Linked DNA regions of Homo sapiens. The protein of the gene in region 1 purifies or fractionates together with the protein of each later gene. This does not show direct contact. Each region holds a gene or a part of one and is shown in the gene's direction. Other genes may lie near its edges. The genes, in order: COX16 and PDIA5.

The links.
Region 2: the proteins of COX16 (region 1) and PDIA5 purify together in Homo sapiens (affinity purification with mass spectrometry; one large-scale study listed by BioGRID and IntAct). This does not show direct contact.

What each region holds. Positions count from the first base shown.
Region 1 is NC_000014.9:70,349,676-70,353,497, reverse strand, and holds part of COX16 (cytochrome c oxidase assembly protein COX16 homolog, mitochondrial isoform 1 precursor), read left to right. Parts: intron 1-3,074; exon of another isoform or gene 3,075-3,822.
Region 2 is NC_000003.12:123,157,310-123,161,131, forward strand, and holds part of PDIA5 (protein disulfide-isomerase A5 precursor), read left to right. Parts: intron 1-3,822.

The sequences.
Region 1 (3,822 bases):
CTATCTCTATGTGTGTGTGTATGTATATATATATATTTATATATGTGTGTATATATATGTGTGTATATGTGTGTGTATATATATGTGTATGTATATATATATAAAATTATATATAAATTAAATTAAAAGAAAGGTAGGGATCAAACTTTATTTTTTTCCAAATGGCTACATCTTTCAGCTTCAGAATGATGGATTAAAGCTAATTAGATTTTTTTTCTTTTTCTTTCTTTTTTTTTTTTTGACAGAGTCTCACTCTGTCACCAGGCTGGAGTACAGTGGCGCAGTCTTGGCTCACTGCAACCTCCACCTCCCAGATTCAAGCGATTCTCCTGCCTCAGCCTCCCGAACAGCTGGGACTACAGGTGCGTGCCACCACACCCGGCTACTTTATGTATTTTTAGGAGAGATGGGGTTTCACCGTATTGGCCAGGCTGGTCTTGAACTCCTGACCTCGTGATTCTCCCGCCTTGGCCTCCCAAAGTGCTGGGATTACAGGCATGAAACTAATTAGATTTTTGGATGACATGATAAAGTAGCAATGACAACTTGGGGATCTTTTAAGGTTACCACATACTGAGAAGTGTGGTAAATTTCATGAGATTTCTTTTTTTCTTTAGAAAAAAGTGGCAGTATTTACTTAAGAAGTGAAGATGTCATTTATCTGACCCAGAAATTCCATTACTGGATATTTTTTCTCCAGTATATGTGTACAAAAACAAATGTAGTTGGGAGGCTGAGGCAGGAGGATCTCTTGAACCCGGGAGGCAGAGGTTGCAGTGAGCCGAGATCGCGCCACTGCACTCCAGCCTGAGTGACAGAGCGAGACTCTGTCTCAAAAAAAAAAAAAAAAAAGAAAAAAAAAGAAATATATTTGTGTTAGAAAATGTATGAGTGAGTAGTGCACATAAATAATGTATGTAATATGCATTATGTTTACATATATATAATTATATAACATGTAGTTATAAAAATATCATATGTATGACACACATACAAATATAAAAAGATCTCCACTGGGTGTGGTGGCTCATGCCTGTAATCCCAGCACTTTGGGAGGCTGAGGCGGGTGGATCACTTGAGCCCAGGAGTTCAAGACCAGCCTGGGCAACATGGTGAAACCCCGTATCTAGTGAAAATACAAAAATTAGCTGGGTATGGCAGTGGATGCTTGTAATCCCAGCTACTCGGGAGGCTGAGGCAGGAGAATTGCTTGAACCTGGGAAGCGGAGGTTGCAGTGAGCCGAGATCGCTCCTCTGCACTCTAGCCCAGGCAACAGAGGGAGACTTGGTCTCAAAAAATAAATAAATAAATAAAAAAGTACAGACCAGTATTATATACTACACGTAAGTATCAATTCCTGGGTCAAATAAATGACATCTTCACTTCTTAAATAAATATTGCCAGGTTTTTCAAAAGAAAAAAGAAATCACATGAAATTTACCACACTTCCCAGTATGCAGTAATCTTAAAAGATCCCCAAATTGTCATTGCTGCTTTATCATGTCATCCAAAAATCTAATTAGCTTTAATCCCTCATTCTGAAGCTGAAAGTTCTAGCCATTTGCAAAAAAATAAAGTTTGATCCCTACCTTCCTTTTTATATAAATATACTTGTATTACCAATTAAATGATTAAATATTAAAAGGTATAAAACACTATAAAACATAAACTTTTATAATTTTGAAATTAAGAATACCAACAAAACCTTGAAGCTGTGACATTATTCCAGAAATCATTCAACTATCAAACAAGAGAATGAGTAAATAAACTGTGTTCTGTTTTTATAATGGAATACCATATAGCAAAGAAAATTAACTATAGCTGCATACAATATACTTTAATCTAAAATACATAATTTCTCACTAAAAAAAGTTACACCAAAGAATAGTTTTAATAAAATTCAAAAACAGAAAAGGCTTAATTATAGAATTTAGTTATTATATATAGATGGTAAAGTAAAGAAGAAAATCAAGAAGTGAATGCAATAAAATCTAGCTTTTGTGTTAACGGTAAAGAGAGGAAGGTTACCCTTTTATCTGCAAGGGGTATATGTGTTGGCAGTATTCTATTTGTTAAACTGGGTAGTTAATGCATTGTAGTTTATGTTACAATTATTATCTCTAAATTAATGCTTTATATACACTTTTGTGTGTATTTATTAATAAAATATTAATGCAGTGTGCAAGATGGTAAGCACGATGCATATTATGTCTCCGTTTGTATTAAAGGGAGAGTGTGGTATGTTTAAAATGTCTGTGCTTATACATGGATTGATGATTTTTTGAAGGACAACCAATAAGTTGGAAACAGTGGTTATATTGGGGGGAAAGACATAAATAAGATAGAAATTGTACCCTTTGAGTTCAGGCAAAATACTACCCTAATGAGGGCTCCCTACCCCTTTCATCCCCCCTTGAAGAATGGCTTCAGTCATTTAGTAGAAGGGCTAAGCTTTTGAAAATATTATTTTCTTCTTTTGTTAAATCAGCAAAATGTCAGGTATGTCTGCTTTTTCTGAGTTGTGTAAATTCCACAGTTAGGCTGATGCAAAAATATTTGAAGTCCAGTCTATAGAAGTTTTCAGTTAGCTGCTTTGAGATACAGCATTTGGTATTAACAAAGTTCCACAACATAAACCTTTGTAATACATTGCAGCACTGAAGATAGCAAATTGACCTAAAAGCACAAAAAGATGAATTAACCAAATGAATTGGATGAACTATTGTTTGTTCATTTTTAATTGTACTCAAATTATATTTCTTATTAGGGGAAAATGATAGGAGAACAGAAAGTAAAATATTAAACATTAAAATTGTTATTCTACTAAACACGTATAGTTAGGTGTAAGTTGGACAAAATCATTTGTGTGTTGTTGTTTTTAGAGAATACATTTATAAATGCAATGACAGTATTGTAAATATGTTTTCTTTGCATAGGAGAAGATAACTCTTAGTTAGCTGTCACTGCTGTATTGCTTCAATATGAGGTGAGAGGTGACCCAGCTGACTATTTGTAAGGTTCTTGTATTGGTTTGAACCCCGAGAGCGCGCCAATGTACAACACTGAGGCGGTATGGAGCAACATGCTGTTTTAATGAGCGCCTGGGTGCAGGCGGGCTGAGGCCTAAAATGGCGTCAACCCCAAGTGAGGACGGGACGAAAGTTTTACAGTCTCCTGTAAACAGGAAGTGTCCTAGTCTGACGTAATTGCTAAGTTGTAACTGGATTGGCCTCTTTCTGGGTCTTCAGGGGTGTGTCTTCCGGCCGGCTCTCTTCCTGCTTCTGCTATCTTCCTGGCGCACCCTGCTGGCGCAAGTAGCCTTGAGCCTTGGGACTGGGCCTGAGAAGGGAAGAGTTTTTCTTTCATCTCCTTAAGCTTTCAGGCCCCGGGGAGAATCTTACATTCCTGTCTATTTGGTTATAGAAAAGGGAAAAGGGATGACTTTCTCAATAACTACTTCAGGCGTGACATAGGGGTGGCGTGGGCACCTTGGAAAAAGAAAACCTTAATTTTTTGGGTATTCTTGAGAGACGGGCTGGTGTCCACCATGTCGTTGTATCAGGAGCATCATCTGGATTGTCTGGAAACACATCTGTGCCTGCAAGACAGTTATGTTGAGAGGACAAGGCGGTGTGGACAGGGAGAGGCATGGCCTCATTTGCTGCTTCACAAATGAAAGACCCTGTCTGGATTAAGGAGGGAAGGTAATTCCTGAAGGGCTCAGAGTCTGGTAAGGGTGGAGGCCCCAAGACAAAAGTTCAGCCATACATGATTGCAAAGGGACTATAAAAAGAGGGTGCTTTTGGTGTTGCGCAGAGCCT
Region 2 (3,822 bases), on another chromosome or scaffold:
ACTACTGGGTCCCATCCTACAACTATCAGATCAGAGTCTCTGGGGGATGGTGCTGGAAATTTGTGGTTTTTAAGAGCTGGCTCTTGTGCTGGCCACAGGCTGGTGTGTGGGGACTGTTGGCCTGTCCCCTCTCCCTTTACTCGTGAGGGATCCAGGCCCAGAGAGGAGCTGTGTCCCTTGTTCAGGAATGCCCAGCGGGTCACTGACAGCCAGAACTGGGTCTCCTGACACCCCAAGCTGCCACTTCTTAGCTGGAATTGTGGGGTTTTTCCACCCAGAAGCCAGCCCCTGTTCCTATCCCAATCAATATGCAGTTGGTTGTTCACTTCCATTTTCATAGCCAAAGTCAATATTAGCTCCTGCAGAGATTTATTTTACTGAATCAATAAAGCTGTGTGTGGCAGCTCATATTTTAGCAGGGGAGCCTCCACCCCCTCCCGGGAGCTTACTTGGGGACTTTATCGGTTGGCACACTGGTGGGGAAAGGAATGCAAAGTGTTAGTGTTGGAACAGATGGTGTTATTGAAGGGGCAAGGCAGACAGGACCTGTGGTGGGCTGGCAAGCAGGTGGGGGGCTCACCTTTCACTGCACGTCAAGGTGTGCAGGCTGGGGGTGGTGTGGGGCCAGGTGTGAAGGTCACCCTTAGAGGGAGGCCCTGAGGCAGTGGGGGCCCCACCTCTGCCATGGGCCCACTTCACTGCTGGAATCTGGCCATGACATGTAGGTCCTCCTGTTTATGAGGCTGGCTACTGCCTTTTCCAAGTGAAAGCTCCCTCAGGACAGAGACCTCATTTGTCCTTGAACTCCCCACAGTCATGACACCTTAGACCTGTGTAAATGTTGACTAGGTGAAGGAACAATATAACATATTTGATATTTACTGCGAGCTCTTCTTCCACTGAAAGCATTTCTTACATCATGTTGTCCTTACAATAGCTTGCTCAACTAGGTATTGTTACAGTGCTCATATTGCTGAAGAGGTGATTGAATCTTAGAGAGATCATATGCTAGTTTCTCAGCTGGAGAGGGGCAGAGTGAGAATCGCAAACAGGCATTGTCAGAGTTTGAGTTCTCCCAGAAGCAGACCCTGCTCCTGGGCTCATGTGCAGGGAATTTATTTGGGAAGTGATCTCAGGAAGTTCAGAGAGGACCCTGGAAGTGAGACACGAAAGGGGAGGAACCAAAGCAGGTGTTTTATGGGCAGATGACTGGATGAGTCACCAAGGCTCAGTCCCACAGGAGACCTCACCAGGAAACGTGACACAGAGCTGTTCCACTCAAAGGCCAAAGAAGCCAGGGTCCTTGTTCTAGACCCCCATCTGTCATTGGCCTTACGTCCAGCTCCTTGAGGCTGGGAGGATGCTCTGAGGCTGAGAGTAGCAGGTGCTGTGGCAAGGGCTGGTCTGAGGGGATGTGGCAGGACACCAGCAGCGTGTGCCCCAGGATTTGTACCAACCACCATAGAACAAATTGAGAAATCGTAGGTGTTCTGTGTTGCAGGTGATCAGTGCAAATCTTGAGTTGGGTGTAAGGGGACAGGCATTTAGGTGAAATTTCAATAGCTGAGAAGAGCTTTATTCGCTGCCTTCTTTCCAAAGAGTCTAAGCTGCTGCCTTTGGGGAGGACGCATTTGTCTCTTCTTCTGTGGAAAACGCGCGTGGATTCACCTTTGCAGCTAGAAGTTGCATTCCATGTGTGCGGCTGGCAGCTAGTTTAGGTGATTCAGAACAAGTATACATTTCTAATTTAGTAGATTTATAAAACCATACACTATATTTCCAATAGCTCCAGGGCATTGTATACAAATTAAATTCATAATTTAAAGCAGATGCAGGGAGAGCAGCAGCCCAGAGCCATGTTCATCCAGCACTTTCATGGCGGAGCAGCAGCTCCTGGCCCGGGCTGGGCATGGGGCCTCAGCCTCTGGCTGCAGGGAAGGAAAGTATGTGGATGCCCGTGTCCCTGGGCAGGGCCCCATAGCACCTGCCCTGAGAAATGGAACCCCACAATTTGGCCAGGGGAGCATCTGCCTCATGTTTTTAAATAATAAAGTGCGTTAGAGGTGGGCTGCGGTTATCAGAAGTGCATAGGGGCCAGTCTGCTGGCCTGGGTGAACTGGGCTCCAGGGGGTGCTGGGGAAGGTATGTTTAGCCTACCTGAAGGACAGCTGCCTCTCTGCCCAGCCAGTTGTCACCTGTGAGACTGCAGGGTAAGTGCCATCAAGTCTTCTGACTTTTAAAGAGAAGCTGGAAAGCCAAATTGTTGTATTAAATCTTCTGGCTCCATTTCTATGTTGGAGCTAATTCAGATTTATTTTTTTTGTTGTTGTTAAATTCAATGTGGGCCAAATAGAAGAGGACTGAGAGCCAGATACAGATTGCAGGCAGCAAGTTTGTAAACTCCATTTTAAAAGTCTCACCGTATAGAATGTTACATAGCTGAAGAGTAGAAGGGAAGCGTGAGGGTGAGGGGGGTGAAGGTGGCACCTGGTGGCCAGGGGAGGCCGCACCTCACTCTTCTCTTCAGCTATCCATCTGGCAGCTCACCTGGGCATGAGGGACATGATGAGTAAACGTGGCCATGGGGGCCCACAGGATTCTCCTACCTGGAAAGGGGCTTTGTCCAAATGCAAATAACCATCAACCAAAGAACTGTGTGAATCATGGTTATTCAATAATTTTAAATTATCTTATTGAATCACCCTCTTTTAATTTCTTCCAAGCATTCATTGAGCTCTATCTAAAATGATCTAATTTGTCATACAGCAGACGCTTGATAACTGGACTTTGTCAAGGTCGACGTTGTCCCCCAGCATCTAGAACAGGCTTGGCACACGGCAGGGTTTCAGTGTGTGTTGCCTGGTAGGAGGACTCATTCTCATGGGAATCTGCCCCATCTTCCATAACACCTCTGTACTGGGTATGGCCATTGAGGACCCCTTCTCGGGCTTCCCTGGTGCATGACCCTCAACCGGAAACAAGTTCCCCATTTCTGCTTTATACTGTCTTCCTTTGAAAAAACAACAAATGATGAGGAAAAGCTACCCAGCATGTGGAATTTGCTAGATGGTCAAGAAGAGGCCAGTGGCCAATGTGGGAACCACTTTCTGACCAAACATTCTGATGGCTTTACTCATGCGGGGCTCCTCCAGTTTCCAGATGTGCTTCCCTGGTCTCCTCCTCTTCCAGTCTTGGCTCAGATGGCGAATCATACAGAGCGCCTTTGCCCCACTCACCTGGCACCTGGACCACCTCCCTCATCCCTCACATCACATCATGTTGGAATTGTCCCTTTATCCAACCCCTGCCCAGACACTGAGCCCCTAAGTGGGGACAGAGCTTGTATATGGGGTTGGAAGAAGTGACTGTAATAGCAGCTGACATTTCCTGACCATGAATCTGGTGCCAGGTTCTGTGCTCACTGGCCTCACTGGAATTCTCTTATTCAGTCTTCACAATATCCTGATAGCCTAGATACTATTATTATCCCCATTTTACAGCTGAAAAAAATGAGGCACCAAGAGGCTGAGTTATTTTCCTTAAGTCTTACTGTCCAGGCAAACCAAGAGTGCACTTGGGGAACTTGACTTGAAAGCTCTTGCCCTTAACCTTGGCACTATACTGTCCCCCCAAGCTAATGTTCCGGAAATATTAGTGGAGAAATGATTAAATCCTACAGTCCCTTACAGATAGCACCACAGAACCTGTGGTGTTTACAAATGCTTTCAAGTCATCATTTCCTTTACGATCATCATACTCTTGATTTTAAAGGACAGTCTAAAGGCACTCCAGGCCGAGTCCCCTAACCTTACCCATCTGGAA